Linked DNA regions of Homo sapiens: all the other regions are linked to region 5. The links come from fine-mapping of genetic effects on gene expression. A gene starts in region 5. Each other region holds a variant in brackets. All regions are shown on one strand. Distances are from middle to middle.

Region 1 (4,614 bases), 65 kb before region 5:
TAAAAGACGCCAAAGATATATGAGTGGATTCAATGCTAAATGACATCAACTTTGTTTCAAACTGGAAATAAATACTGATATTGTCGATCTTTTCTAAGTTTTTAAGATACGCTATTGTGACTATTTTTGTTTATGTTTGATAACCATAGGCTAAAAAGAGACATGAAGAAGTTTATAAGCAGGCCTTAATTTTCTCAAAACCAGCAATCAAAAATAAATCAATAAATCCATAGAATTTTCTTAATAGTTAAAAATGAACAGCAATATTCTCTTTTCCTAGTTTGTGGTCTTAATATTGATTTCTTATTGTCTGATTTACTAGCCTTTTCACCCAAACCCACAGGCAAATCAGAGACGATGTATTTAGCAGTTTACAGATAAATCTGAAGATTATCACCCACTTGCAAAATACGCATACGTAATGGAAAGCAACACAAATACTTAAACTTTCCTCGGTGATACAATATTTGAAAAACCAAATTAATGAAAAAGCCCACATGGTTGGCTACTTTTTATGTTTATGGCCCCCCAAAATACTGCAAGTTTCTGATTTTTCTTGCTTTCTTGTTTCTTAAAATACAATGCTTGTTTAAGAATGGCACAATGTGAGTAAATGTTGAAGCTGGGTGATGAATCCGCTGACGTTCATTAGACAAGTCCGTTTATTTTAATTGCATACTTGCCTATTAATGAGGGGATGTAAAACGATTAAGATAAAAAATTAAACAAATTTCTTACTCTTTAAGCTCACTGTAAATTGGCAGGACTGACGGGTGGCAAACAAATGCAAATGCAATGGTGGGTAAAGCATACACGGTCTATTTGAGAGAAAAGAATAGACATTAGGAAAAACACTTTTACCATAAAAAGGACATAGCTCCAGTATTTCTGAGCTGTCTTTTTATCTGACAGCTCTTCAGAATCCCTGGATTATTCGGTTATTAGGGAGGTTTTGATCTCTAAAGTAGAAGCAGCTTTTCTAAGACAGCTTGTCTAGCTCGAGCCATTAGCCACTTGTCACAGAGGGACTTCGGATTTGGCTCACCTATGGTGTATTTTATATACTCCAGGTATACAACACCCCCTGTTTATACAGCATGAGCCAGTTACATGGCACTCTTCCTAGGATAGCTCGCTGGGTCCCCACAGCAATCCCAAGCAGTAGGCAGACTGTGGCTGTTCTCCTGGCTCCCTCCAACAGGTCAGGCGACTGGCCCAGCACTCCCACCTCTAGTTTACTGCTCTTCGCTCTACATCAGGTGCATGGAATCGGACTTAAAAGATACCCTCTGAAAAGAAAATCTGTTCCATATTGCACTACTTTGGCTATATCCTTACAATCAGAGAGAAGGAGAAAGATCGCGATCTATTTAGTTTTCTTAGATAAGGCTCTTTGAAACTCTCACACTCAATCTAACTTCCTATGCAAAAAGAAGTGAAAACTAACCTATCTTATGCCCTAACTCTGCTGATGCACTATGCCAGGCACATTCTAACAAAACCTTGTAAGATACAGAATAGAATACTTATTTTTACTCAAGGGGTTGGGTGACTTGCCTGAGGATTCAAATCCAAGCCTGACTGACTCCATAATCCTCTGTTTCCCATTGTATCAACAATATTTTAATAGTATGAGAGTTTTTTAAGTGCCAGTTTGTGGTGGCATCTATATTTCAACTGTGCAACCTGAGGAAGTCTGCAGTATTCCTTTCTGTCATCGCCAGAAGAAGGGAGCTAAGGATGTTGTTAGTCTGTTTTTGAAGTATCACCTAGCACTCTACACAGAAAAAGCTGAGACAATTATCCAGAATGGGATTTTCACAGAGAATGCTTAATGGTAAGAGAGAGTGTAAAATATAATATTTGTATATTTCTCAAGGATCTCTACATAGATGTGTAATCTGGAAGCAATGGTATCATGTGTTCTTTTGAGAACTAATACATTCAAACCAGTGCAATTACAAGCATGAGAAATAGAATGTCCTTAATAAAAATGCTTGTTTCATCTGCAAAGGATCAGGAAACTTACCTTTGAATTGAAGGTAACATATTTTGGCGTACACGTGTCAGCATTTGTTGAATTAGCACTTATTGTTGAATTTAGCTCTGGAACAATGCAGGGAATTTGAAATTTCTTGTAAATAACCTGGTATTAAGAAGTATAGTAGAAGCAATATGGACTTTAGTAAAGCCAATGAATAATTATTACATGCCATTGTACTATCACAAAACCAAACCAACCATTGCAATCAGCACTTACCACAATTAGGAAAAAAACCATACAGCTCAAGGAAAATCCACTAGTATAGCCAAGATACCCTTTAAAAAAAAGTAAAAAATAAATTATTTCATTTTTTTCCATTTTTAAAAATTTTGGAGCTACCCATCATAAACTGTTATTATTTCAAAATTCATCACCTCACTTATTTCAGTGCATTATTTGAAGCATATTTTAGAGATCCAATAATAAACATACATGCCCAAGTGAATACAAGATTTATTATTTGACAGTGCTACTTTATTTGGCAAAAAAATGGGGCTCTGAATAGAAACATTATATTACGTGTTTTGATTCCAACTCTCCCTGGCACACTAGAGAACACAGATTCCCAGAATCCAGCAGAAAAGAGCCTTCCAATTTTTGCTGTAAGTCTGTGTTGGTGGACCCTGATGGAGTCCTATGGGCAAACCCATTTACTCCTTGATCCCCTCAATAGCTCTTTATTATGCACTTATTGTGTGCATACTGAATG[T/C]CAGTTATAATACTTTTCTCCCCAGATGACAGAGAGTAGATGAAGCGAATTTCTAGTGGTAAATTGAGTATCTGGGGCTCTTTAGTAGCTCCCCTTAGAATGCCTGGGAGATCTCCAATTGCTACCATGACCTCCAGAAAGGTAGAGTTAAGTAGCCTCTCGGGACTGCATTATTTTCAACCCAGGGGAAGAGCTTTTCTCTACTTAACTGAAAAGAGCTACCTCTATAGGTACAGAAAACACAGAGGCAGAAACCAGAAAATTAAGTAGTTAAAAAAATCTATTTATAAACCTCACAGAACAACTACAGAGCTGTTTTGTTTTGTATCCAAAACAAAACAAAAAACTAAGGCTCATAATTATTGTTTGGAGAGCTTTTATCCAAACTTCTGTTTGAATTAGCCCAGAATTAAAGTAAATACATTTTATAGGTTTTTGACTAGATGGCAGTCTGGTCACATTATTCAATGTATGAAATTCCCTTAACATCAGGCATCCTTGTCTCCAAATACAAGCATAAAAACAAGTAGTAGATCAAAGCCAAATGGATATGACTTGGAGATTATCCGCCATTTCTGACTTTTGATTTCTCTCTCCCACTTCGAAGAGAAATAATTGAGGCTGGTCAGACTCTCTAAATTTATAATACTTGTGGGTATAAATCTAGGCAGCTTTCTGTCTCCATATTAGATTTGAAAATGTATTTATCTAAATAATGAGGGTATTTAAGACTTCGTATGAAGAGAATTGCATTTTCTGGACTTTTCTTAGAGTAGCATATAAGTTGTACTACTGAAAATAGCCCTGTCTGTCCTGGCCCCAGGACCTCCCTTCTCCCCTCCACAGCTCAGTAGAGGGATTGTTTAGGAGGTCACATACTGACTGTTATTTTTATCCCATATTAAAGTTGGGACCGATTAATACTTGCAATTTATCATGTACTTAATCTTTGAGTGCATGCAGAGGGGAAGCAGAGGGCAACACTGTCCATTTTTATTCAGTTTCTGATTCACTTGGGCACTGCAGAATATGATAAAAGCAAAATCTGTCCTTACCTAAGTTCTTCAAGAGACACAGAGGGAGAATTATGCCAAAGGTAACTATCACCACCAGAACGCGGCCATCCACGTACCAGGCTCTGAAAGGCATTTAAGTGATTAGGTTATATTTTTTTAGAAAGTGACTTTTTTCCCCTCCAATGTAAAATTTCATGATATCATGATATATATTTTTATTAATTTTTACTATATGCATTAATTTTTAAAATCATTATTCAGGTCTTATCCAAACACTTTAACCCAGCCCCTACTTATATACTACAGCTTCACTCCCCTGTAATGGAAGAGGGAATATTGGTTTTTTTTTTTCCCATTGGCTAAATGTGGCATTCTTTTGAATTATTTACATGGTTTCAAAGCTGAATGCACACATTTCATTCTGTCAGATTACAACTTGTCCTATCAATTATTTAAAGAGAAAGCTCCTTTTTGTTTTGCTGGGCTAGTATCAGTGAGAAACAAGTCACTACAGGTAGACATTTCTCTCTCCCTGATCCCTTGGATTTGACCTTGAATCCTGAGAACACTAGAGACTCTGGCTTCTACGATTCTCCCTTGAAAGAAAACAGAGAAACTAAGACTGACAAGAACTGTTAAACAAGAGGGAGTCAAAACACAATTGTGCCAAATGTAGCTGCAACATTTTCCAGGGTTATCTACATCTTTAATGAGGTTGGCTCATGTAAATTTCGCCCCCAAAATGCTATGTCCCTTCTTTAAGTAAGAGGCTAGGGTCTTAATTTTTGTTGCACGTTCCACTTTTGTGTTAAAAATACTGCATATCTGTTCTATTTCACAGAAAC
Region 2 (4,614 bases), 71 kb before region 5:
CAGAATCCAGAGAACACAAGATTATAAGTTCCTTGCGCTTGAGCATGTTCAGTGAGAGCGCTGCAGGGAGAAGGATGATGCATTCTGAGAGCCAACAGGGCTGGACTGGAAACTGGAGGAAGAGAAAGAGCTAAGGAAGGAGAGGAGCAAATTGGGGGTTGACATGGCTGCACATGGCATACCATCCTGGGTCCAGTCTAACTCCCAGTGGTCCTTACACAGATGGAACCCTTGTCTAATGCCATTTGGAAGACCCTACTACTAGTTTCATTATGGGACCAGGGTTGGAGAGGCTCAGAATTCATGGGCAGCAGGCCTCCACCATTTTCAGATTTAATCTGAATATATTGTCCTGTTGTGCCAGAGTGACTGTTTCTTCCTCTCTGTCCTCATTAAGCCCCTACAGATAAGGCTTGGAAGGATTTGGGAATTAAGGCTTCAGGGGTGATCATGTTGGGGAACTGGATGCTCTACTAGCATCAGTGCTGCTTTTCCTAAATGCACAGAGATGACCCTCCTGCCTACACCTCTCATCTGGATCTGTTGACTCAGGTAACAGGTACAATTGCAGTGCTTACACTAGCTGGGAGGGCAGCTGAGAAGCCTTCTCCAAGACCAAGCAAAATGGAGCTCCAGAAGGGACTCAGGTAGCAGCCACTTCACCCCTGCTTCCCTCACTGTCTCCAAGTGCACCACGTTCAAGATGCCCTTGAACTTCACCAGACCTGGAAACAAGAATCCCAATATAGAAAGGTAGTTTTTGAATCCAGGTCTGTTGTTCCAAAGCATATCTGTCAAATAATAAAAAAGACTATTTAAGCTAACTCAGACATTTTAATTAAGGCATTGCATGTTCCCTGGGCTGTAGGGAGGAGTTACATGACTAGAAATCATATGGAAACAGTGGACTGCATAACATCTGTGAGTCCCTCGTCACTTCCTCTCTTGCTGAAGACTAGACACTGTCCTATAGAGACACAGGAGGATGAATGTCCATTCTTCTGACTGGCCATGCCCTGGATCAGAACAAAAGCTGAGGCACAATAACAGTAAAACCAGAGGGCCGGGCGCGATGGCTCATGCCTGTAATCCCAGCACTGTGGGAGGCCGAGGCAGACGGATCATGAGGTCAGGAGATACAGACCATCCTGGCTAACATGGTGAAACCCCGTCTCTACTAAAAATACAAAAAAGAAAAAAGAAAAAAGAAAAAAAATTAGCCAGGCATGGTGGCGGGCGCCTGTAGTCCCAGCTACTCTCTGAGGCAGAAGAATGGCATGAACCCGGGAGGCGGAGCTTACAGTGAGCTGAGATCTGGCCACTGCACTCCAGCCTGGGCGACAGAGTGAGACTCCATCTCAAAAAAAAAGAGTAAAACCAGAAAAGATATTTGGAGGGATGGGAGAAGATTCTGATATGATATTTTAAATATCTCCCAAGTAGCAAAGCTACAGGGCTTCTGCCTCCTTTCAAGGCAACTGAAAGTAGTCTTGATAGAGAGGTGGACTATTTATTTTGTAAATTTAAATGGAAAACTAATCAGAAAAGTTAGAGTGGCTGGCAAGAGACATACCCAAATTCTTTGAGTTCCTTTATCTCCATCCTGGTCTGTGATTTTTAAATAAAGAGATGAAGGAAGAATGAAAATAAGCATGTTAGCAGATGTAACTCCTGTAAAATAAGACAAAAGAGAAAGTTTAGCATTGCTATTGTGAAAATTTCCCTGCAAACAGCTACTGTAGAATGACAAGCACAAAGTCATGAAGCCATACCTACGACTCCAAAAATATCCTTCATGGAGGGTATGAAGATCACCAACAAGTTGATAACAACCAAGAGTATGCAGGTAACCACGGTATGACGACATAAATTAAACTTTGTTTTCTTAGCCAGTTCAAATAAAGATGAACGAACCTGCAAGAAAAGAAAACAAAGATTCTGTAAGTGCCTACAGCATGCCAACATTGACATTTCTCTGCAGAGTAACTGATTTATTGGTGCACAGGAATTCATGAAATGTTTTGTAATGCCTAGTGAATTTATAGATAGCTTAACAGTTTTGGAAGTACGGGGGCTTGACTTAAGAGGGAAAGTATTTTTATTTATGAGTAGTAGAGTTTTCTTGT[T/TG]GGGGGGTGTAATTTCTGTCTTTGGTTTATCTAAGACTTGAATGTTCATTTCTGTTCTTTTTATATTCTCTCTTCATGTCTACTGAGATTTGAACATTCTATTGTCATTTCTTTGGAAAGAACAGGGTCAGATTAATTAGAATGGAGATTCACTGCATCAGAGGCTCCCTGACGCACTGAATGCCACTTGCTTTTCAAAGAGCCTGAACCGAGTCTTGGGATCTTTCCCAGATGCAGATTCAATAACCCAGGAAAGTTACCTGGGGCAGGCTTTCTCTGCAACGGGCTCCTGCAGGCAGAAGGAAAGCCGAGACCTCAGCTTTTCTCATATTGCACAGAGGCCCTTACTCACCGTGAAAAATAACACCGGCACTGTGAGGATCACAGCAACAATGACAGCCAGCCGCACTGTCAGGATGAGAATGTCATCTTTACTCTGATATTTGTGAAGGAGGTCGGACTGCACGTTGTCTAAAATGAGGGAAAAGCAAGAGGGTTTTAAAAGGAGACAAAGTATATAGCTGAATGACAGTTTTTCTGAAAAACAAAGAATCTGTAAACTAAAGGGCAAGAAAAGCAATGTTTCGAAATGTCTATTAAAACAATCAGGTTGGAAAGAAAAATCTCTATGTAAGACATGCTCCACTGTGCATACGCGACTTAGCAAAGAAATTTAAAGTAATCACTGGAAGAAGCTACATGGAGTGGGAATGCTTAATTTAGACTAAATTAAACCTAGGAGTACACTGGGCTCGAGAATGAAACATACAGTTGAAACGCGAAGCTGCTCTTAATCTAGACTTTCCCTCCACTCTTCAAACCACACCAAACTGCCACAGGCTTGCTCAGGGAGGGGGTGGGGTGGGGAGAGCTACAAGCCACCTTGGAGCTTGTTTCAAACTCTTCTCTTGTTAAGTCAACTTCAAGTGGCCAAGCAGCAGAGACACTAGTTGAAATTTCACCATCAGGAAATAATTCCACTCTTTCATGTATGTTGTTCTTGTAAAAAAAAAAAAATTAGTTTATGTACTACTTTGTGTGTGTGTGTGTGTGTGTGTGTGTGTGTGTGTGTGTGTGTGTGTGTGTGTTGAGACAGGGTTTTGCTCTATCACCCAGGCTGGAATATGGTTGCCATAGTGCCATTTTGGCTCACTGCAACCTCTGCTTCATGGGCACAAGCAATCCTCCTGCCTCAGCCTCCTGAGTAGCTGGGACTACAGGCATGTGCCACCATGCTTGGCTAATTTTTGTATTTTTTTTTTTTTTGTAGAGATGGGGGTCTCATTATGTTGCCCAGGCTGGTCTCGAACTCCTGGGCTCAAGCTATCCACCTACCTTGGCCTCCCAAAATGCTGGGATCACAGGTGCAAGCCACCGTACCTGGCCTTATGTACTACTTTGAACTTTTTCTCAATCCAGAACTTCAGAAAGTGTTATTTCAAAGACTAACAAAGCTAGAATGGCAGTCACATAGAGTATGGAACTGCTCACTCTTTTGACAAGAGGTAATTTCCCCTCCTGTCTCCTGCAAGGGCCTCTCACTGCACCAGTCTCAAGGTCCTCAGCATGGAATTCAAATGCTAATCTGTACCATAGAGCTTAGCTTGGTCTCAGTTTCCAAAAAAGAACCATAAGTTATAATACCAATCTCACTAGTTCTAATTTCCTTAATTCAAAATAACTAACCACTTAAAAAATAGCTAATCCTTTTTCTTTAATCCAAGAGTAATAAAAGTGTTTGGTGTTCTATTCTATGTGAAAAATAATGCATCTACAAAGAAAAATTATAGCTTCAACAAGACAACAGTGAGACTTCAACTAACATTAAGTTCTCCGCCTCTCTCTCCCTGTACAACTCTGTATGCACCTTAGCAACACCATTTTTATGTAAAAATTAAATGTGGTATTTATGAATTCATTAGACAATGCCATTCTCTATTGCTAGTGAAAACAATAATAATATCTGTATAATCAGAGTAGCCTTTTTCTCCAGGCTGAATTAATACTTTTTAAATGTGTTTAATTTTGAGACATTTGTGTTTATGAAAAAAAGTCCCAAAGAATTATTATTTAGTAGAGAAGATTGTGAAATACATACATATATATATATATACACACACATATATATACACATATATATAGACACACATATATATACACATATATATATTTAAATTAGGTCCCCAATTATAAAGATAATGAAAGATATTAAATCAAGCTTCAGGATAATTTGAATAGGAGAGGATGAAGAAGCAGTAAACGCCGGTAAACTGTTCATTCAGGGTCAGTAAAAGTTACATATGAAAACTTGTTCCCTTTTTCAGATTTCATTTTTTAAAATTTTCTATCATTCCTTTGGATCTTTGCAAGGCTTCGACTTCCAGTGAACAATTAGAAGTTTCATTTTTAATTAACTCAGAGTGTCATGAGTGTAGCACTCTGCTCTTTCTCACTTTCAGCATCTGTCTCTGTCTCTCCATTCTATTAA
Region 3 (4,614 bases), 89 kb before region 5:
CAGACATTTCTGCACCAAAAATTATTGAGTCAGGCAAAGTTGCAGAGGCACCAGGACAGCTCCTGGGAAAATAATATTGTCTCCTACTCAATTTTTTCCCTTTTGGGTTTTGCTACTTTTCATACTTCACTTGTGGATTAAGATAATCGTGGAAGGAGCAAGAAACAGTAAGAGTTCTACAGAGGAACTCACCATGAGGACATCAGGAGTAGAACCTGGAATCAGTATCAAGTTTCAACTCCCATGCGTTGGGGGAAAGTGAGAGGGTTGGGGGAAAGTGAGAGGGTTGGTTTTAACACAATGTACAGCTGTAAACAAAAGGCCCCCCTGAGCCAGACAGGGTGGAGGGTATGGATTGGGAGTGAGCTGGTGGCAAACTGAGGAGCCATTCCTTGCTTGGGCTCCGAAAGTGACAGCTACCATAGCACTGTGTGGATTGGGGTCAACCTTCCTCTGCTGCTTCAGCCCTCCTCAAGTTGTGGACCTATGAGGACATGATTGCAGCAGCAGACACAGATGTAACAGATTACACAGGGCCGGTGTTCAACAAGGACATCATGTGGCAGTGGCGGAAATGAATGAGGTGGGAAGGAAGCCTGCTGTGAAGCCTACATTCACCAGTTCTCTCTTTGCCTGGAGTTTGGAAGCAGACACCTCTGGGTTCTTGCACCATTTGGAAGTGGGAAAGAAAGAGGTGTTAGGCATCCTGGAAATTTGGCCAGGGGAATATTTTGAATAATTTGAACCTCAAACTGAAGAGGCAGGTCCCATCCATTGCAACATATGAGTGGCAAATATTAGTTTTGTATCCCATTTGGATTTTCAGATTTTTTTACATGTTAGCACTATTGTATGTCATACAGAGTTTTAAAATATTTACTGATCAATTACTTCCTCTGTGGCTCCTATGTTTTGTAACAAGAGAGATCTTCTGCACTCCAAGGTATTATCTATATAAGATATAGATATATATATTGCAAGAGAAAAATTGCAAAGGACTTTGAAATGGGCAAAACAGATTATTAGGTGACCTTTCAGTGGAATACCACGTGGTCCTTCAAGGTTATCGGTAAGGATACCTAAGATATAATGGATAACTATTAGTTACTGAGGTAAATTAACTACAACTTTTGGTCTTATTATCAAATAGGTTTCTGCTTCCTGAAACTAACCTTAGTCTCTGCTATTAACTACAAGCCAAAATTTGGTTCTTCAGCAAAGAAAGAGCCTCAGAGTCTCATGGAAGAAGATTGCACCAAGTACTTTAAACTATCGAAGTCTATTCAAAGAATAGACTCTTGGGTACAAACCCTGAGCTGATGGTATTTAGACAATTTTCAGTCTGTACCTGTGTAATGAGTATGAATTTACAGGAGTCTTTTCAATGCAGAAGCACATAGCTTTCTGAATGCAGAAATGCCAATCCAAAATTCAGCAAAACACAATTACAAAGGACAGAATGAGCTGATGAGGAAAATTTTCACTGTGGTTGTATTGATGTTGTTTTAAGGCTGTATTTGCTGGATATATAAGGAAGACATTTCTCTTTCTTCTTAGGCTATCTTCAGTCTACAACAATTCAGTAGACTCTGCTTTTGTAAAATAAAACTAAACATTTTCTTCCTGCTTTTCACTGAACTCTCCCCCACCCCGAGTTTAAACACTGTGACTGAGTTACCTTTTTGACAGCAATGTAGTTATTTGCATAGGTTCAACAAGAGTCTTTTTCTTTCCCGGTGCATAACTGGACAAAATTGAATGTCACCATGGCCTTACTTGGAAGATCATATGTGAGGATGATGGTCATTTAACAGGTATGTCAAACAACTCCAAGGAACAAAGGTTAATTTTATTTCTGTAGCCAATGCCTACAAAACCCTGGCTTAGTACCAACCTTCTAGGGTTGTAACCTAGAGCCTAGTACCTAAACTGGTCTATAGGATCCTATTATGATGGGTGGTGACAAAGAGCACTTCCTGGCAGGCCATGAACCTTAGTAAATTTAAGCGACCTCAAGTAGAAAGGAATTCATCCAAATCTATAGATGGTATAGGTGAATACGGTGGAGTCTCTCGGGCTTGCTTTCCTAGCCCTGAGCTAGCAAATGATGGAGACTTTTTCCCCCTCAACCCATAGAGACTTTTAAAAGTGCAGTTCTGTGGCTCCAGTAGCTGTTCAATAGTACATAGCTCTAGAATTGCAAACCAAATTCAAGGAAGCTTATGTGGTTAATTAACACCCTTGCCGCACCCATGCAAATAATCAGGCCAAGGCTAATGGGACCATTCTTTTTATGACCAAGAATAATCTTTGAGATTTTTATAGTCACAAAGGGGAAGTTGTTACGGAAACTGGAAAGACTTTAAAAGAAGCAAAAAAGATTACTGGGTGGGTGTACTTTCAACGAAATATTATATGCTGCTTCTGGGTTATCTGATTCTATAAGAGTTTTGCCT[C/T]GCACCCCCTTTTTTTGTTTTTTGAGCTACTTTATAACCCTCTAAATTGTAGAAAACTGAGAGATGGAAATGATTATTGTCCAGACATACAAAATAATTCTGTCTGATTAAGATGCAATTAATTAGATGACGAGTTAGTGGGTGCAGCGCACCAGCATGTCACATGTATACATATGTAACTAACCTGCACATTGTGCACATGTACCCTAAAACTTAAAGTACATTAAAAAAAAAGATGCAATTAATTTCCCCCTGTGGACAGGCCAGTTTTGCATCTATTAGCAAATTCATTTTAGAATTCCTGATTGCTGATATATGTATCTGTTCTTTGAGTTCTCCTTTGGACCAATTTTTAAACATATTACTTGTTCCTTAATTAATAAGCTAACTAAATTTTTTGACACATACTTTATTTAAGTCATGGTTTCATGCTTATAAAAATAGATATATTTACACATGTGTTATTTAAAGTCTTTAATATATCTAAGTTCTCTTTAGACATAAGGGGTAATATAGAAATCTGGTTTCATTTTCTTCAAAAACTATGTATTTTTTCCTATCATTTATTAAGTAACCTTTATTTTTCCCCATTGATTTGAAAGGCCACCTTTCTGGTATTTTTTGGATCATTTATGCATTCACTATTATGATCTATTTATTTATTTGTACCCAGTTCAATTCTAAGTGCTATGGCTTTATATAATTTGGGTAATTTGTCAGGTTATTTTGGTGGTGTACTGACTCTCCCAATGAGCAGATTATTCTACCAACTTGGATTAGCCTAACATGTAAACTAATAAAAGATTTTTAAAAATTGATATTCAAAAATTGGCCTAGTTATTTGGGCCTCATCCACCCTTTCCAAACTAGGTAGAACACAATTATAAATCTAGAAAGTAAGAAAACAGGACATCTGAGTTGCAAAGTTATCATTAAGCCCCGTGATGGTTAATATTAGGTGTCAACTTGATTGGACTGAAGGATGCCTAGATAGCTGGTAAAGTATTGTTTCTGGGTGCATCTGCAAGGGGGTTGCCAGAGGAGATTGACATTTGAGTCAGTGGACTGGGAGAGGAAGACCCATCCTCAATGGGGGTGGGCACCATCCAATAAGCTGCCAGCATGGCTAGAACAAAGCAGGTGGAAGAAGACGGGCTAAGCTGGCTTGCTGAGTCTTCTGGTGTTCATCTTTCTCCCATGCTGGGTGCTTCCTTCTATTCCTCCTGCCTTTGGACATCAGACTCTAGGTTCTTTGGCTTTTGGACTCTGGGACTTACACCAGGGGTTTGTTGGGGGCTCTCTGGCCTTTGGCCACAGACTGAAGGCTGCACTGTCAGCTTACCTACTTTTGAGGCTTTTGGACTCGGACTGAGCCACTACTGGCTTCTTTCTTCCCCAGTTTGCAGACGGCCTATTGTGAGACTTCGCCTTGTGATCATGTGAGCCAACTCTCCCTAATAAACTCTCTTTCATATATACATATATCCTATTAATTCTGTCCCTCTGGAGAGCCCTAATACAAGCCCATAGTTAATTCCATGGGAAAGGCAGAGAATAGCTCTTCCCTGACAATTCTGTGTAAAAAAGGACGGAATGGAACAGTATTAGCAAATACTCATGGAGGGAGAGTAGAAGGAAGAAGCCAGAACTATCAAAGGCACTGCAGGACTGGCCCTTTCAATTTGGAACAAAATCTGCTCAGATTCTCAATAGTCTTTTAACTTTTACCACTGCTTGAGTTTAAAAGTGCTAATTACTCACTCACACCCTTTGCCCTTGGGGTTTTGATCAATTAAGAAGTAGGCATAGGAAGCATGTAAGGATAAAAATATCAGCTTTATTCCTAACGAAGTTATATTGGAGAACATGACTTGGACTCCCGTACCCCAGGTTTCTACTTTGAGTTTTGCGTGTGTGCCACCGAGGCCCTACAGAATGCACTGCTGTCACCTGGGTAGGCCAGAAGAGTTCATCAAGGGGGTCTTCATTCCCAGCCACACCGTAAAAGACCCAGGCTATTCCTGTGCTAGCCCTGTCCACAAGAAGAACTTGGATATCAGACTTTGGCCATCTTGCTGGTCTGGTAAAGCCTTTCTAAGATGCTGGAGAGGAGTTGGTGATGGATAAAAAGACAAGGCTGCACTAGCTTTGACCCAAT
Region 4 (4,614 bases), 110 kb before region 5:
CTTGTCCTGAACTCTTGTTTTATAAACTTTGCTCTCTATTCTTTAGAATTCCTAAAACCAAGATTTTCTGCATGTCAGATCCAGGAACTTTGCTTTCCTTATGGCATAAAAGCTAGCCAAAAGAATCACTGTGAAGGTTCTCATCAACCAGAGTAGATAATTGGTTATGGGGTATGAAGGATGGCTACTGATACTCAGTAGACAGGATTCTAAAATTATATTAACTTTTTCCTAGAACTTTATCAAAGTGACAGTTTTATATGTATCTCTGTGTACAAGAATTTGAAGCTAGCTAAAATCTAAATCTGAAAATATCTTCTATAAAAGAGAGGACTTTGTAGTTTTTTTTTCTTTCTCTCTCAGTGATGAAAAACTGGATAGAACCATAAACACTTCAAAGGATGAGAAATCCACATGGGCTGGAGTCCTAGCCAGAGTCCTTGCCAAGATCACTTTCCTCAGAGGATTTTCATGCTCTTCCTTTCTTTGGGGAATCAAATTTCCCAGCCACCTCAGCCCAAGACGTGCTGTAGTTACATGTACTCACTTTGTGGCTTTATATTAAGAGGTAAAATGAGGAGTGGTAATGCTAAAAGGCAGTGGGTATGGAGAGATTTCCTTTGGATGTGCTTTCACTTGGGTTATACCAGGTACTTGGAATTCTGTGTTTTACTTTTGGATAAAATAATTCTTTGCCAAAATGTTTTCTTCACTAGCGTGAAGCCATCTAGCTGAATCAAAATGGAGCTGCTGCCTGCCTACAGATTTTTTATGTGGGTGAACATTATTGTTTTTTAGAGAGGTGAGAATATTTATTTCCTTCCATTTTCATTCTTCAGAGATTATTCTATCACTTTGGATTCAGCACAGGTTACCCAGCAATTACTACTCACTCTTCTTGGGTTCAAATAAATGAGTTTGGTCCAACGTTTCCTGTATTTTAAAATGGAGGCAGTTCATGACGATCAGGATTTGGGGAGGAAGTGGATTTAATTAGACAAGGAAGAGGGTAGGAGACTGGACACCATTTGGGGCTATTTTCAGCTAGTTGAGCCAAATTGTTATTGACCTAAAGCTGACAGTTTTTCTGTGGCCTGCACAATGTGAATTTAGTGAGCTCAGCCAATTCTCAGAGGACAAGCTCTTATATTTCTAGACATACCAGCAGTGGTTCCCGACATTTAGATTTCATGGACAAGTACAATTAAAAATAAAAGAAGTATGGAGATAGAGAGAAGCCAAAAAATCTTAGGAAAAGGTCAGCCCTTTAAATGGAATACTTTCAAATATATGAAAGAAAAAAAAAAAACCTCACTTCAATGTGCTCGATTTTCTCATTTTTTTCCTGGCCAGTGAAAACTAGATCCTGGGACAGCACTGGACACACACAGATGTTTGAGAACTACTGTTCCCAATCTATGAATGAGGCTGTAACTTTTCAACCTGCAAATTCACTTCAGATATTTAAGAAGAACCTTCTAAGTGAAAATATGAAAGTGAACAAAAGCTTTCCTTTTTAAATACACTTGTGTAACCAATTGTTTGGAACAAGTCACCAATGATGCCTTACTTCAGTTCACTATTCTTTCAAATAAAAGATGTATTTGTGAAATTATAATCATTCAAATAGCCATTTTGAGGGCTATGTTTTTTTTTTTTTTCAGTCACAAATCTAAGTGACCCTGAGAATTGTAAAAAGATACTATGGAAATATCAATAGTGTTTTTATGTTTTGAGCCAATGATTTTAAACTTCCACTTGCTAAAAAAAATCAAGAAAGATGAAGTATGAAAACAAGCACGTAGATCTTTCTTTTGTATTACATGTGTGTAACTAAGAAGCCAGTACTCAGATAAATGGCTACAATCTTAATAGCTCGCTCCTGGAAAGCCAAAACTGCATTTCTCTTTTGTCAGGACTGGAAGCATGTAAATTGATTGCCCAATTAAGGAAAGGTTGACTGAAGGTGAGTAAGGTTTCAATGTTCCTGACTTAATTGCTCAACAAGCTTTATTAAGGGGCTAAATGGAGCAGCAAGGGAGTGGCTGGAGTGCAAGGGACTGCTTCTCACCGAGTATTATTGGACGGCTGCCAAAGACAGTTA[AAAAAT/A]AAAATAAAATAAAGCTGCTCAAGCGTCTTATGCCATGAAGAACAAGATTCTTCATGTTGGGGCTCGCAGTTTTAGTTATAGCAAACTGATTACAACATACATAATTTCTAGTTACAGATAAGGGGCCATTTGCACAGCATCTAGTAGTTTTCATATAATCTTGCCCTGGATTCTGTAAGTTAATAGAGGTAATATATTATTATGGAAAAAGATGGAATCTGGCAAAGATCTCAGGCACTGAAGGAACCAGCTGTTCCGTAGCAATGTGATTTTGCACGCTTCTTGGGGCCTGGCATTCTTAAACTTCCACCAGCGTTAATTCTTACTGGTGAGTTTTCGCTCTACTGGGCCTGCTTATGCAACTCAGTGGCCCAAAAGTCTGATGTCACAGCCTAATGCTGCGTGTCCTCTGCCAAGAGTCTTTTCTGTGGGCACACATTTCTGATGAGAATCTACCCTGTTTTGACTCTTGACTGCATCAGTCTCTGGCAATTACCCTTGTGAAAATAACTCCTTTTTCAAGCATGCAATGTGTCTGGCTTTTATCCAATGGTTTAATCACAAACTCTCTGTGACAGCTTTACCTTGAGCAGCCCCTTAGGGAATTCAGAAGAGCTAGGGTTGCATTTGGACTCTCTAACTACAACATTCTTTTGGCTTTTATGCTGGCCTCAGATCTGGTCTAAACAATGATTTTGTACTTGCTGAGCAGAGTTTTTCACTACTTTGTTCCATGAATTCAAAGGAAGCATGGAAAATGGCACAGATAAGATCATCTTAATGTTAATAGGGGCGCTTATTGTGGGCTTACTATGTGACAGATACTGTGCTAGAAAATTTACAATATGCTATCCAGTCTAATTATTCCTTACAACCATTCTATGGGATGACTATTATTATTCCCACTTTCTGGTTGCGGACACTGAGACTGAAGGAGATTAAGGAAACCTGCCCAATGTCACTTAGCTTTTAAGTAGCAGAGGCAGGATTCCAACCAAGGTCAGTCTGAGTCCAGAGCCATGTTCCTACCTCCTTGCAAATTCTCCTAGACAATACATTTGTCCTTGGGCCTTGTGGGGGAATTGTGGAACAGAAGAACAGGCATTAACACACAGAGAGAGACACACACAGACACACACACACAGACTCCAGAGTCTAGCTTTGCTTCCCATCAGACATGGGACTAGTGCTCATAGAGCTGACTGGGGATATCTCTACCTGCCTAGGACACCAAATCTCTGTAAAAGACAGCCCGCTTCCTGAAGCCTCGTCTAGTGGAGGGAGGTTCTGACATACTGTTTTGTTCAGGCTGGTCCTCCACCCCAAGAATGGAGCTCTGCTTCCTACCCTACCTACCTAAGGACTACTCTCCAAAGGAGTACAAGAACCCAAGCCAGTTCACTGCAAGGCAGGTTATGCTGGATGCCTTTTTGGGCAGGATGTAAGGCCTGTTTCCTACCTTATTTCCATTTTGTGTGGTGGTCTGATATAAGGCTTTGCTTGTGGGCAGTGTTGTAGCACTGGTTATAGCTGAAACTGCCCCATGAGGACAGGCTCCTTCATCAGTTAACCCACTTACCATAGAAGTTGGACCCTCCTTACCAAATTTGTCTCTAGTAAACGGTGTTATGAGGTTCTAGCCTAGATTTAATAAATTTACATCGTATGCTTCCCCACCCCCAACAAAGTTGGGAAAATTGAAAAAAAAAAATAGTCACTTTCACAGTATTATTTTGAGAACTGAAAAGTACGAAGTAATACAAAATTAATAGAAATTTCAAAATGACAAGCATTTTGATATGTCCTTCTAAAATACTGATAAAGAGAATTCTTCTTTCTGAAAGCAACTGGGTTCTGAAGAGACAGGGTGTGTTGAAATTTCCTATGCTTTTAAATGGTTCTGGAATTCTACTTGATTGTTGGGGATTTGGGGTATCATTTGGAAAGCAAGATAACCCAAGAGCAAAAAACAGTCTTTTGGAATTATCCTAATATCTGCTGAATTCTCTTTAGCTTCGATGATAATGAAGGTGAACTGGGCAAAAAGAGTTTGCTTTGAAGTCTCCTTTAATAAAAGCCAAATCATTTTGTTTTAGAGAGACGTTGGAAAGATAGGTATTCTGTTAGCTAAATTTCCTCTATTGAGTTTCCCTTTAAGAAATAATCTAGAAGATCTTAAGATCATCTGATTATTTGCTGAAATCAAATTATGATAACTGGGGAACCCCTTAGATATGACTTTCTACCTGTTTGGTACCAGACAGTGGGTTGCTCGGCGAGGAAAGCATACTTACAGATTGCAGTTCATGATTGCATTGTTCTAAATCATGGATGATGCTACAGATGATAGTCTGTCTACTGCAATTCGGCCTGGGGTTAATTGATATTGAGAGAGGATGTTTTAGCCTCAAATTCTGCTCAGTTCCTGTATTTGGCATGAAACTTTCACTTTCTCTGGAAAACAGTCCTTAACTTAGAAGGAATTGTTGATCTAGAGCTGAAGA
Region 5 (4,614 bases):
CCTCAAGATTAAGACCTCAAACCAAACTATTCCAGTTTCCAATTGCTTACAGCGACATACTGAGAAATCGAGTGACTCTCAAGAGAAAGGCCATTTTGAGGCTGGGGTCGAACCAAAATCCAGGGGGTCCACACCAGGTCAGTACCCCGGAATTGGCTGTTTTGCAAGATTTCGGGAGTACCAAATTGGCATGAGACATTTGACAACGAGGCCAGCCATGCACCGAGCTCAGGTTTTATTTCCGTTGTCCTTCTGACGTCAGAAAAAGCACGAGTTGCTGCACAGTTTCTTTTATCAAGGTGACAAATTACACCCTCGCTGGGCCCTGCATTCTGCAAACCATAAATTTATTTTCCTCCTCCCCCTTATATTGAAAAATGTAAAAACCCACTGCAGAGAGGTCAAAACCCCTTCCAAACGCAAATAAATACCGTTTTCTAGCAGAGGCGTCTTTTTTCACTTTTGCTACACACATCACCGCGGATTCGTCCGAGAAAGTACGTGATCCTGGCGGCAGTTAGGTTTCTAACAGAGAACGAGGGTTTGTACAAACCCCGGGTCCGCGCCGCAGAGCAAGACAAAGGACTCTGAATTGTAGCACCACCTTCCCCAGCCCAAGGCAGCCTGTGAAAGGCACTGGGAGCGGCGTGACGCGGGTACCGCGAAATTCCTTTTGCTGCCATATGCACTTGTGCCTTCTCTAACTACAGTTCAGCACAAACCTCAGGCGGGCGATTTGGCAGGCAAACGGTGCCCAGGCAGCCGGGTAACCTACTGGGTCCCAGTGGGTGCTGGGGAGCCCCATGCGCCAGGAGGTGGATAATTTAGGGGGCAAGGGGCTCGCACAAGGGCGAAGATGCGCTCTCCTCCCGGCACCGACCCACGCGTTTAAAGGCCTCTGCGGCAACGTTTAGGGACGCGAACTAGGTGCCGGGGGTTGGGGAGGAGGTGGGACTGGAAGCGAGAGCAGTCTGCGCCCAAGACCGCGCAAGAGGTGGCCTTTTGTTCGCTGGCTCCAGCACATCCCGGCTCTCGAAAAAACACTACCTCTGTCCCCTGCCACCCTCTGCATTTTAGAAAATCCTCTTCAGGGCAGGAAAGGACAGTGAGTCACTGCAAGCATCCTTTAGTAATTTCTCCCCGCGCCCTCCTACTTCCCCGCGTTACAGAGGGGCAGAGCACCAGGAAGGACGGCAAACATGCCCCGGTTTAGTGGTGGTCCGCGGCCGCTACCCAGCCGGCCGCACGCAGCACCCCCCGGACATCACACGATCTCCTCTGGGCCTTGCGGACACAGGAAATTTTCACCAAAGGCCGGGGATTCAAACACTCCCAGAACACGGTCGCGCCCTCGGGTCAGCTGCGCTCTCCCTCCAGACGTGCGTGGTTCCTGGCTCTCGTAAAAATGGAACCAGATCTGGTACCACACTCTGCCACAGCCACAGGAAAACACACCAAAGTCACAGGAAAACAAACCAAAAAGTAAGCCACAGCCCACGCAAAGGTGAACTCGGGGGCCCTGGCGCTTCCTCCCGCTGCCGCGTGCGTTCGGGAAGCACAGGAGACCTGGACTTTTCCTCTCCTAAAAGCAACATCCGAAAGCATCGGGCACAGCCGAGCTCTCTCTGCTTTCACGCCCGCAGAGATGATTTCTACGTTACCTCCTCCTCCGACATCTAAATCTCCCCTTGCCGCTCGCCCAGCCCTCCCCGGGAACGGATAATCACCTTACCTCCGGAAATAAAGGGAAAGGTGGCAAAAGGCGATGTGGAGGTGTCCGCCCTTCCGGGGTTTTTACCCTCGGCAGTTTGATGTCCTTTGTGTCAAGGTCTGGCTGCGGAGGCCGGGAAAATGTGGCCCCCGTCAGTAAGGGTTGGGCAGGGAGCTTGGCGTGGCCTGGCGGATTTCGGAGGAAGGTGAAGGGCGGAGGCTCCTGGCGACCTTCTGGCGGAGTGGCGTGGCCGCCCCAGTCCGCGCTCGCCTGGCTCTCCTCCTTTCCGGGCCGATTGCATCAGAATCTCCCCTCACCACCAACCCCCACTCACACTCTGCTCGCCGGCCTCGCACTTACATCGACATGCACCGGCGCTGAGGGTCACGAATCGGAGTCATTCTCCTACTGGGGGACGCGTGGCCCTTCCGCAACCATGGCTTGTGATGGTTTAACGCGGACAGGCCATTCCTCCCCGTCCCGCGCGCGGTCTCCTCCCCTCCTGTGCGCCCGCTCTTTAACCAAAGCTGCGTGTCAGTGAGCCGTGCCGGTCACATGGTGTCACTGCTGGCGGCCGCACCTTGCTGCCTCCCTCTTGCAGCTCTCTGACGATGCAGCGACCGCGGCTGGCGGAGATTGAGCAACGGGGAAAGGGTGAGGGAGGGGTTGCGGGGCGCGCGTGTGCCCGGCGCACTGAAGCTGGCACCGGGAGCAGAGGCTGCGCGCCGCCCTGGCACCTGCCCCTCTCCCTCCCGGGGCCCGGCGGCGTGTTCGGAACCCAGCTGCGGCTGCAGCTGGAGAATGAGAGCCCTTAGGGATGGGGGTGGGGCGGCTAAAGGGGCACCGGCGGAGGACAGGAGGGCTGTGCGTTCCGCTGGGGCCTGCATTTTGGGTACGCCAGAGCCCCGCCGGGGCCGAAGGAGCGAGGGAGTTGCATTGTGGGAAGGGCGCAGCATGAGGATGGCCGCGGGAGTGGCAGGTCCGAGCGCAGCCCGGAGAGCCGCGGGCAGCGCCTGGGACTACGGGCAGCGTTGGAGCGGAGGGCTGGCCCTGGGCACAGCCTGCAGATGGCCCGGGTTGGCGGGAAGGGGACCGAAGTGGCAGGGGCGGCGGGGAGCTCGGGCACCTTTAAAAACCCTTTGTCCCTAACCTGAAGCGGGAGGCACCTCCCCTCTTCCGGATCCAGCACCCGCAGACCTGGTCAGCCCTTCCTGAGATCTGCCCTGTGGAGCTCTGCTTTGGGGACTGGGTGTGAGGTGAACCAGAAGGATTTGCTGAGCACCGAGAAAGCACCGGCCTAGGCGCAAAGAGCCGGGGGCCAGCTCTTGGAGGGCCTGGAGACCCCACGTGGTCCCGACCGAAGGACCTGGTGCGTCCAGGTTAACGGAGCTGGGGCGCTCCAAGTCCGGGGGACGAGGGAGCGGCATGGAGGGGAGCAGGGGCAACTGGGCCTGGTTCCCTTTTTTCCCGCTTACTCTTTGTTTCAGACACAGCCCCCTTTCACTGGCTGGGCACTTGCTTGCAGAGGAGTTGTGTCTTAAAATGGCGACAGGAAATCCCACCTGCGCCTCAGCCAATTAGACTGTCATAGCGCGAATTTGCAGGGTGGAAACGCGAGCTTTTTATTGATAGGGAAGGTTCAGTCTCCTGTTCATGGTTCATCAAAACAGGAAAGGGAAGGTGAATCATAATTCAAAAATTAACTACCTGGAGCGTTTCAAGTAGACAGTAGTCATTGTATTTGGGTGAATTTTGCTTTTTCATCACCACTGGAAAAGCAAGATGATAACCAAATTTGAAACTCATCACGGACTAAACTTCTTATTCCCTTCGAATGGCAGTAAATGGCCTTTATTAGTTCAACAGTGGCTTCCTGAGAATCCTATTTAGAAGGCATGCTCTTGAGAAATACTGAAAAACAGAAAGTTCAGAGCAAACCAAAAGGGCAAACACATGGGCAGCCTAGCTCAGACAGACCTGCATTCAATTTCTTCCTCTGACACTTACTGCTTCCCTCATCTGCTTTACTTTTGTCCTAATCCTGTTTTCTAAATTTGTGAAAAAGGGGAGAAGAGTACACACAACATAGCAATATTCTATAGGTCATCAAAAAGTTGGTTCTTTCTACCTTACTAGAGGAAGCTAATTTATTGTGAAATTAATGATTTTAAGTAGTGTGCACCTTGCCTGGCACAAATAATTCTTATCAATAAGGTAAGAAATCTGAATAGGTAAAGTAGATGAACTGTGAGCCATAGCTTAATAGGCCTGTTGGAATATTTACCTTATTAAAGGCAGAATGTGTATTCATCGCTGTTTGGAGATTATCTGAACCAAGCTTGTCTTTTGGTTCCAATTTTAACTTACTTGCTAGTTTCTGTATATCAAAACGACTGCAGTTATTTAGCACTTTTTGAATTGGAATCAACAGTTATGAACTGAGCTCCTATGATATGGCAGCTATTGTGCTAAGGACTTTACATGTAAATATCTCATTTAAAGCTTTCAATCCCTCAGTTGGGTATTATCCTCTTTAAGAAAACAAGTACAAAGTTGAATTGGCCATGTTCACCTAAGACAGTAATTAGTGAAGGGGAAGCGATTCCCTTTCAGGTCTGAATTCAAAATCCGTGCTCAGTCTTCACAGTGGTGCTACAACCATTTGCAATCAGACATTCTTGGGCCTAGAGTTAGAAGGATCTTCACCCCTTCTCTGGATTTTAGTTGACAACCTAGAACCAGAGTAAACATCAACATGGAGGCTGCTGTTTTCTCAAATTGAGGCCAGGGATGTCTAGATGATTCCTCTATTCACTGTGTGCTTACTGAGAGACAAACAGCAGGTTAAACACTTCACAGATGGTCTCTCGTTTAATTCTCATGACATTCCTGATAGGGCAGCC
Region 6 (4,614 bases), 47 kb before region 5:
ATTAACAGGGTTGTTATAAAGATCTCATGGAACAATGTACACTTTACAACTATCTTTTCTTTTTTAAAGTCCTTTATAAAATTAAAAGTCAATCTTACCTAGCCAGCCACACAAAAGGAGGCTGCGGGTGGCTTTGGTCTGCAGGCTGTCCCTTGCTGACCCCTGATATAGATGCAGATCTTTGAAATCATGTGCCTGACATAAGGTAAAGTCTGTGGCCAGAGAACAAAGCAAAACTAACTGGCCCACAAAGGAGTAGTTTTCTAATTAAACCAACTACCACTCTGTGAGTAATAAAAGTTCAAGCTAACCTTGAAAATCCAACTCTCTGCACCACACTTAACCTGCTCTACTGTGATAACTCCAACCTGGCCTACTGTAAACCAGATGAGTGAGCAGAGAAGGCATTCTACCAATCATGGAGGTAAATAATGCTGTAAAACCATAGCCAGTATAGTTAAGTTGTCTGTTGCAGGCTAAGAAAAATACACTGTACCAAAACAGAGATCACACTGCTGTCCTTGGATAGGACCAAGGCACCTGAGGCAACTCAGCATAAATAGGACTGAGTGAACTCAGGGTATACACTCTAGCGCATGTGCGCGCACACACACACGCACACACACCCCTACCTTTCTGGGGCTAAGAGAATTGAATTCTTAGAACCCCCTTATCAGATGCATCACAGACGACTCATAAACTAGCAATAGCTGCTCAACTTCTAAAAACAATGAGTGGGACTCATCTCCTACACATGCCAACTATTTCTGTTTACAAAATAGGCACTCATTGTTAACGCAATGCTAACCACTTTCCCATTTCCCTATTTCTGAAAAGCTTCTTAATCCAGTGGATTTCAATAGAGTTCAATGGCACTGCCACTGTCCCTTTTCCATGTATTTCAAATGTTGGCAAGCCTGAATGTGCCATTTCTCCCTCTCCCGGGTTATTACTCCCAAACAACAGACTCTGATGTCAATGATTTTTGCTGCCAGCCAAAGGACAATTTTCTCTTCAAATCATTTCTAAGGAACTGTGACTATAACTCAAAGAATTCTAAAAACAAGAAACTGATTGGCAAGAGGAAAGATGAATGTGACTAGTCCGATGGACCTCCTAGGATCATCCGGAAGAGTAGGGTTTCCTTATTGACTTCCTCTTAACTGCTCTGTCTTTAGATCACAAGATCCAGTTTGGTATTTCCTAAGGAGGCAAAGAACTGCTCACTTAGGAATGCACAGAGGAGATGACTTACCATTTATAAGGAATAACTTGATAAATAGCACACAGACCATCTTCGTTGCCACTGAGAGCAAAATTATTATCTTGGTAGGTGTCATTCAACCTTTTTGGCATATATGTAAAGTAATAAAGCAACGATAGCTTAAGAGCAGGCCAAGTTTGTATAAAGGTATGCTGCAATCTCACTGCAACTTAGTAGAATTTGCTGAAAAATATTTAGAGACATCAGAAAGTGATGCTGGTGCAATTGGTTAAGAATATAATTCTCCCGATAGAATGAGAAGACTATTTTTTGTGATGGGATAATAATGATCAAATTCCCATAACATACAAGCAAGGACTTAGGGCAACGTGCTGATGGGTCTATACTTTTACTTCTATTTCTATTTACTCCTTATGTAGGCTCAATTGTAAAACACTAAATTTAAAGAGAGAAGGGACCTGGTAGTCTGATCTCAGTTTACAGAGACCCTTATATTTTTCGACTTATCCTTACTGGAAGGGGTACTAACTGATTTGTTTGTAAACATGGATCATAGACAATACAATGGTGCATAGTTTTGCTGGTAGGATAATTACAAATGGCCCACAAAGGAGAATATTGAGAGACAGACAGAGAGACAGGGAGGGAGAGAGGGCCAGAGAATTCACCTACAATTAAGTGAACAATCCACCAAAGTGAAGATAATTGCTGTAACTGACAATGACAATTACTGTCCTTTTCCCAAACAGCAATTTAACAACAAATGCCCTTTTGCAATACCAACCTCATCTAGTATTTCTTAGCAGTCTCAGAACTATTTTGAATTTTCAAATGAAGGAGGCATTCCTAGGAAAGTAGACAATGAGCAGCCAGTCCCATGCTGACTCTGTGATTATTATCACATCTCCACAGCCTACTAAAAGTCTGAGGGTGAACTAAACCTTTCAGTTGATCTTTTTTCTCTCTGATAAATTTGCAACAATAATGAAAGCCACTGTTTTGCCCTAAAGCCTTGTTTCTGGTTTTGCAAAATCTAATTCTTACATATCCATTCACT[T/C]ATTTCAGTAAAACTTTGCTGAGGAGCAGCTACGTGCAAATGCTGTTCTAGATCGTGTTAGCGGGAGGAAGATGATTTCAACAAGGAAGAATTTGGCATTAATCCTGCCCTTGTAGGGCTCAGCATTCAATAGGGAAGGTAAAATGTATGCTTAAATAATGGAAGTGATACTTACTATTAGAAAGATACAAATGACACTGAAAAGGAAAGGAAGAGAGACCTCCCTTCCACCTGGGAGGATCAGACAAGCAGTTTTGGAGGAGATAACATCTGATCTAGGCCTTCCAGGACCATGAGGATTCAGAAGACAGAGATGAGACAGGGTACGGGTGGGCTCTGGAAAGACCAAGGTAACAGTTTTAAGGCAGGCAGCCTCTACAGAAAAGGGAAGGTTAGTGTGGCAGAAGCTGAGGTCATCTGAAGGGAAAAGAGGTTGAAAATACAGTCTGGAACAAGTGGCACAGCATTGACAGAGTCCTCATTCTAGCTTCATGGTCTAACTATCTACACCAAAAATATATTTTCTCTCTCAAGTTTTTAGCAGGTAAGAGGAAAAAGAAAAAGTCTTACTGCACTGGTGTTAAGTTCTTCAAAAAACCAATTTTTTCAACTAGCTTTTTTTTTTCCTCTAAAAGCAGGTTAAAAATAAATTCAAAGAGTCTAAACTTTCCATCTCCACTCCACCTCTAGACCCTTTCTCACTCTCCAGAAGTAACCACTGCCAACAGTTCTCTTGTGTACCCTCCCCAAATATTCTGGGCAATATAATGTATACATATAGACACACCCTCCTTCCATGCTCACTTCCACCCAATATTCAGTTTGTATTCATGTAATAGTACTATGCTACACAGTATTAATAATACTATGCTACGCAGTAACATAGTGCTACACACTATGTTCCCCGTTACAACCTAGGAGATTTTTCCTCACCTGCCCATATAAGTCTATTTTACTCTTTTAAGTAGTAGTCTAATACTCTATTTTATGAAAGTACCATGGTTATTTAACAAGTTTCCTAGGGTTAAACTTGGTATTATTTGATTTTGCTATCACTTGGTGTTTAATTCTTAATAACAAAATGTTTAGTTACTTCTTTCAGGAGTTCAACAGCTCCTGAAAGCAATGGGAAATCTTAAATTGCACATGCAGGAACCCACATGACAAATATGAAGCCACTGAGAGGTTTATTGGTTTCACAATATACTTTAAGCATACATTTTACTTGTTGTGAACAGGAACCTGACATCCTCGGTCTACAGTTTGGTACACTTGATATTGCCAAGCTGTTTTCATGACAGTAAAGGGGATGGTTATTGGTGGAACACTAGCAAGATAATTCAGGAACACTGGCTGATTTTATAAGGTGATTTTAAAGGTACATTATATTGGAAAGTAAAAGGTAAGTACTAACTTGCAAGCATCCGTTGATAAAAATAAAGTTTTTCTCAAGTTGTAGAGTAATAATGCAACTTTGGTGTCTGAAGAAGGCATCACCAAAGGCGGTATGGTGTTTTAGATCACGCTGGCTCTAGAGTCAAGCAAGCCTGGATGGGACGCTGGCTCCCCTACTTTCTAATGTGTGATCACAGGTAAGTTATTAAGCCTCAGTTACTTTATCTGTAAAATGGGGCTAATACCTACCTCATAATGTTGTTGGTGGGGATTAAGATAGTGTAGCATATATAGATACTGTTCAGTAAATGTTAGCCATTATTTAGTGACTACCTAATACTAACTGTAGTATTTTAACAAATATCTACAGTGTGTACTATGCACCACGCACTACTATCACTCTCTCCATCTCTCTTTCTCTCTCACATTCACACACACACACACACACACACACACCCCACTCATTTATTCTTCCTAGTAGCTCTATGCGTTGGTACTAATAAAAGTCTCCTTGCATGCCACTTTTCAAAGTCTGTTTTTAGATAAATTATCTTTTTCACTCCCACAACCACAACACAAATGAGATAGAAAATGGAAAAAAAGAATCCAAAAGGTCTGGTATTATAATCAACCAAATAAAATTTAAACTATTGTTTTACACACATTGTACTTTTGTTTCACAATTAACATTTCAAAGAGATTGTTCACAAACTCAGTGTTAATAATAAACTGATATCTCAGAAGTGTCGTGAATTCTACTTTTGTTTTTCATGGTTTTCAACTTAAGGACTACATTATTAAAATAAAAATAATAATACATGTTAAGAAGTTATGGAAAAATAAAAAGCATTTATTGCTTTATCAGATTCTGTGTAGTGTAATAAACATCATACTTACCTAGTACTATGAGATGTGTTCTAGAGATTAATTTCCTGTA
Region 7 (4,614 bases), 79 kb before region 5:
GCACATTTCTCACCATAGGCAAGCTATGGACAATTCAATCACATGGGATGGCCCCACTTAGGGGAATGCAGTTCTGGGTTTCCTTGCTATCCCTATTCTTTTTCAGCTACAAACTCTCTTCTTTTTCAGTCTCTTCAGTTTCCTTGTGCTCCCTTTAGGAGAGGGACAAGGGTAAGAGTACCAGGCAACTCTGTCCTCCTGCATGGACAGTTGAGACGGGCAGTAATGGCACAGTCCTTGGTTGGGGAAGAGAAGAGGAGACAGCACAGACACTGAGACCCCCTTGTCTTCCTCATCTGGGGGAAGGAAGGTACTCAGTGATTCTGTCAGAAGCTCTTCACAAAGACTATCTCTGAGGGTTTTTTTTTTTTTTTTTTCACAAGACTAGATGGAGAATTAATGAAGAAGAAATAGAAATGAGGCTTATTTAAGGTACAAAATTCTTGTATTTGTAATAACCTAGATTTATAGATATAAAACAAGTCTTTTAAAGACTTCCCTAAAATACTCAATATAAAACAGGAGTTACTTATCCTAGATCATCCTTAGTTAGGTACACATGATTCTCTGTGCAACTAGCTGGTGGACATGAATAAAAGCTGCTGGGCCTATAATGTACTAAAACATTTTTCTCCCTTCAGCAAGACAGGTAGGGTTGAAGGCTAAATGCATCAGAGGAGTATTTTCTTAGGCATTTTGGACAATCTTTTTGCAGTAGGTTCCATAGGTTTTCCCCAGCGAAAGTTGACTCAGACCAGAGTAACTCTGACACAAGTTGCCAAGAGGGAAAAAATACTTCATTTGCTAGATTACCCAAATGTGTAGCTTCATTTAATTACCAAGGTAAGAATCATCCCCAACCACTTTTCAGCTGAGAACACTTGCCAGAGAATGTCTCTGGATGGGAATAGATGTGGTACCAGCTAGGCCACTGGACTACCCGAGTTCAGCTGCCAGGAAATCAGAGCCACCTCAAATATTGGGCATGCTCTGATTCAGCAGTGGCAGTGCCCTATAACTTTCAGATGATTATCTCCATGTGCTATGTTAACCAAAATAGGCAAATTATTTACGAAACCATTTTTTTCTGTAAAGCAAAATAAATATATACAATTCAAGATTCTTTTCTCTTCTAAAAAGGTACAGATAGTGTGAGCTGAACATCAGTAGGAAAATTATTTCAGAATCTGGATGTATAATAAATAAACATTATTGTATATCATGTTTTCAAAGTTCTAAGAGACCGGGAAGCCACAAAACATAGAGTTAGATGGGTAAAAAATGATTGTGAAAAGTACTGGGAAATATGATTGTATGAAATTTGAAAAAAAAATTTCACAATCCCTAAATTGATCTCAAATCTTGGAGGGACATGAAGCATTATAGAACCATGTCTCTGTTTTGCAACCAAAAAGTTATTCCATTTTAAGTATCCTGTACATTTCTGTTTGCTTCTGTAAACTTGCAAAAGAAGTGGTGAGAGATTGCTGATGTGTGGGGACTTGACTGAGCAGACAACAGGGATGTTTCTTTTTCTCGGCGGGTTTCAGTGGCCTTCGTCACTACTCGATGAGCAGGCCCAGTCATAGATGACCAAGGGAATGCTGACCAAGGAGAACAACACCCCCAGGCCCAAGAAAAGGGCAGCCTGGAGCAAGAGAAAGGCAAGGGTTATTTTCAGTGCAGCAAAATTTTTCCACATGTACCTGGGGAAAAAAAATAGAACAGTTTTTCCTCTCCCTTTGTGTCCTCTGGTATTCAGAGTTTGTCACAACCATGGCTGAACTGTGAGAATCTTTCTAAAATTTTATGAATCTGATTCTGCAAGGATGGGAAAATAGGAAAAAAAAAAAACTAGCTAAGCAGAGTAGTCCTCTATGTCCCATTCTTTGACTTCATGGTCACCTCAAGTGTATGTATCCATTCTACAAATAACTGGGTATCCTTATGGCTTCTCTCAAACTAAGATTACAACCAAGGGGGAATAAAGGCCTTAGAAAATATCCAGGTCATTTTGTTATTCATTACCTACCAACTTAGCTTATCACTGGCAAGCAAACATTTCTGTTTGAAAAAGTGGAAAAAAAACATACAAAAGCAAAATAGATTTGATTAAGTGAAATAGGAAACAGGTGTCAAAAACTAAGTTACCTGAAGGGCTGATGAAGGCCATAGGTGGACAGATGATGATATGGTTTGGCTGTGTCCCTACCCAAATCTCATCTTGAATTTTAGCTCCCATAATTCCCACGTGTCATGGGAGTTACCTGGTAGGAGGTAATTGAATCCTGGGGGCGGGTCTTTCCCATGCTGTGCTTGTGATAGTGAATAAATCTCATGAGATCTGGTGGTTTTATAAAGGGGAGTTACCCTGCACATGCGCTCTGCCTGCCACCATGTAAGACGTGACTTTGCTCCTTGTTTGCCCTCCGCTATGATTGTGAGGCCTCCCCAGTCATGTGGAATTGTGAGTCAATTAAACCTCTTTCCTTTATAAATTACCCTGTCTCAGGTATTTTTTTTTATTATTATACTTTAAGTTCTAGGGTACATGTGCACAATGTGTAGGTTTGTTACATAGGTATACATGTGCCATGTTGGTTTGCTGCACCCATCAACTTGTAATTTATATTAGGTATTTCTCGTAATGCTATCCCTCCCCGGGCCCCCCACCCCACGACAGGCCCTGGTGTGTGATATTCTCTGTCCTGTGTCCATGTGTTCTCATTGTTCAACTCCCAC[C/T]TATGAGTGAAAACATGCAGTGTTTGGTTTTTTGTCCTTGTGATAGTTTGCTTAAAATGATGGTTTCTAGCTTCATCCATGTCCCTGCAAAGGACATGAACTGATCCTTCTTTTATGGCTGCATACGATTCCATGGTGTACATGTGCCACATTTTCTTAATCCAGTCTATCATTGATGGACATTTGGGGTTCCAAGTCTTCACTATTGTGAATAGTGCCACAATAAACATACATGTGCATGTGTCTTTATAGTAGCATGATTTATAATCCTTTGGGTATATACCCAGTAATGGGATTGCTGGGTCAAATGGTATTTCTAGTTCTGGATCCTTGAGGAATCGCCACACTGTCTTCCACAATGGTTGAACTAATTTACACTCCCACCAACAGTGTAAAAGTGTTCCTATTTCTCCACATCCTCTCCAGCGTCTGTTGTCTTCTGACTTTTTAATGATCGCCATTTTAACTGGTGTGAGATGGTATCTCATTGTGGTTTTGATTTGCATTTCTCTGATGACCAGTGATGATGAGCATTTTTTCATGTGTCTGTTGACTGCATAAATGTCTTCTTTTGAGAAGTGTCTGTTCATATCCTTTGCCCACTTTTTGATGGGGTTGCTTTTTTCTTGTAAATTTGTTTGAGTTCTTAGTAGATTCTGGATATTAGCCCTTTGTCAGATGGGTAGACTGCAAAGATTTTCTCCCATTCTGTAGGTTGCCTATTCACTCTGATGGTAGTTTCTTTTGCTGTGCAGAAGCTCTTTAGTTGAATTAGATCCCATTTGTCTATTTTGGCTTTTGTTGCCATTGCTTTTTGTGTTTTAATCATGAAGTCTTTGCCCATATCTATGTCCTGAATGGTATTGCCTAGGTTTTCTTCTAGGGTTGTTATGGTGTTAGGTCTTACCTTTAAGTCTTTAACCCATCTTGAGTTAATTTTTGTATATGGTGTAAGGAAGGGATTCAGTTTCAGCTTTCTACATATGGCTAGCCAGTTTTCTCAGCACCATTTATTAAATAGGGAATCCTTTCCCCATTTCTTGTTTTTGTCAGGTTTGTCAAAGATCAGATGGTTGTAGATGTGTGGTGTTAATTCTGAGGCCTCTGTTCTGTTCCATTGGTCCATATTATCTGTTTTGGTACCAGTACCATGCTGTTTTCGTTACTGTAGCCTTGTAGTACAGTTTGAAGTCAGGTAGCATGATGCCTCCAGCTTGTTCTTTTTGCATAGGATTGTCTTGACTATGTGAGCTCTTTTTTGGTTCCATATGAATTTTAAAGTAGTTTTTTCCAATTATGTGAAGAAAGTCAGTGGTAGATTGATGGGGATAGCATTGAATCTATAAATTACCTTGGGCAGTATGGCCATTTTCATGATATTAATTCTTCCTATCCATGAGCGTGGAATGTTCTTCCATTTGTTTCTGTCCTCTTTTATTTCGTTGAGCAGTGGTTTGTAGTTCTCCTTGAAGAGGTCCTTCACATCCCTTGTAAGTCGGCTTCCTAGGTATTTTATTCTCTTCAGAGTAAATGTGAATGGGATTTCACTCATGATCGGCTGTTTGTCTATTATTGGTGTATAGGAATGGTTGTGATTTTTGCACATTGATTTTGTATCCTGAGACTTTGCTGAAGTTCCTTATCAGCTTAAGGAGATTTTGGGCTGAGACAATGGGGTTTTCTAAATATACAATCAGGGATCATCTGCAAACAGAGACAATTTGACTTCCTCCTCTCCTAATTGAATACCATTTTCATTCTTTCTTGTGCCTGATTGCCCTAGCCAGAACTTCCAACACTATGTTGAATAGGAGTGGTGAAAGAGGGCATCCTTGTCTTGTGCCAGTTTTCAAAGGGAATGCTTTCAGTTTT

What was found. PIP is the estimated chance that this variant, and not a neighbour inherited with it, causes the effect.
Region 1: its variant is the best candidate, but not a certain one, in a credible set for the expression of SLC38A1 in whole blood (INTERVAL, PIP 0.54).
Region 2: its variant is the best candidate, but not a certain one, in a credible set for the expression of SLC38A1 in whole blood (INTERVAL, PIP 0.76).
Region 3: its variant is the best candidate, but not a certain one, in a credible set for the expression of SLC38A1 in T cells (TOPMed, PIP 0.78).
Region 4: its variant is the best candidate, but not a certain one, in a credible set for the expression of SLC38A1 in thyroid (GTEx, PIP 0.89).
Region 6: its variant is the best candidate, but not a certain one, in a credible set for the expression of SLC38A1 in aorta (GTEx, PIP 0.53).
Region 7: its variant is the best candidate, but not a certain one, in a credible set for the expression of SLC38A1 in CD4 T cells (CEDAR, PIP 0.68).

Annotation. Positions count from the first base shown.
Region 1 is chr12:46,202,272-46,206,885 of GRCh38, forward strand. SLC38A1 (solute carrier family 38 member 1) reads right to left here. Exons shown (of 17, transcript NM_030674.4): 9 at 3,809-3,891; 10 at 2,261-2,319; 11 at 2,030-2,146; 12 at 739-818. Among named protein-coding and RNA genes, the nearest start is that of SLC38A1, 64 kb to the right of the region's middle. The variant T/C (reference allele first, on the strand shown) is at 2,754.
Region 2 is chr12:46,196,147-46,200,760 of GRCh38, forward strand. SLC38A1 (solute carrier family 38 member 1) reads right to left here. Exons shown (of 17, transcript NM_030674.4): 14 at 2,479-2,597; 15 at 1,773-1,914; 16 at 1,574-1,671. Among named protein-coding and RNA genes, the nearest start is that of SLC38A1, 71 kb to the right of the region's middle. The variant T/TG (reference allele first, on the strand shown) is at 2,127.
Region 3 is chr12:46,178,061-46,182,674 of GRCh38, forward strand. No RefSeq gene overlaps it. Among named protein-coding and RNA genes, the nearest start is that of SLC38A1, 89 kb to the right of the region's middle. RefSeq lists an enhancer at 128-257. The variant C/T (reference allele first, on the strand shown) is at 2,457.
Region 4 is chr12:46,158,243-46,162,856 of GRCh38, forward strand. No RefSeq gene overlaps it. Among named protein-coding and RNA genes, the nearest start is that of SLC38A1, 110 kb to the right of the region's middle. The variant AAAAAT/A (reference allele first, on the strand shown) is at 2,105.
Region 5 is chr12:46,266,794-46,271,407 of GRCh38, forward strand. It overlaps SLC38A1 (solute carrier family 38 member 1), which reads right to left and starts at 2,250. Exons shown (of 17, transcript NM_030674.4): 1 at 1,733-2,250. It overlaps LOC105378248 (a long non-coding RNA gene), which reads left to right and starts at 2,278. Exons shown (of 2, transcript XR_001749101.1): 1 at 2,278-2,365. RefSeq lists enhancers at 1-724, 1,650-1,709, 1,708-2,690, 1,830-1,879, 1,930-2,029 and silencers at 2,440-2,619, 2,700-2,799.
Region 6 is chr12:46,219,347-46,223,960 of GRCh38, forward strand. All of the region lies in intron 5 of SLC38A1 (solute carrier family 38 member 1), which reads right to left. Among named protein-coding and RNA genes, the nearest start is that of SLC38A1, 47 kb to the right of the region's middle. RefSeq lists a silencer at 579-638. The variant T/C (reference allele first, on the strand shown) is at 2,283.
Region 7 is chr12:46,187,424-46,192,037 of GRCh38, forward strand. It overlaps SLC38A1 (solute carrier family 38 member 1), which reads right to left. Exons shown (of 17, transcript NM_030674.4): 17 at 1-1,648. The coding sequence ends at 1,547. Among named protein-coding and RNA genes, the nearest start is that of SLC38A1, 79 kb to the right of the region's middle. The variant C/T (reference allele first, on the strand shown) is at 2,743.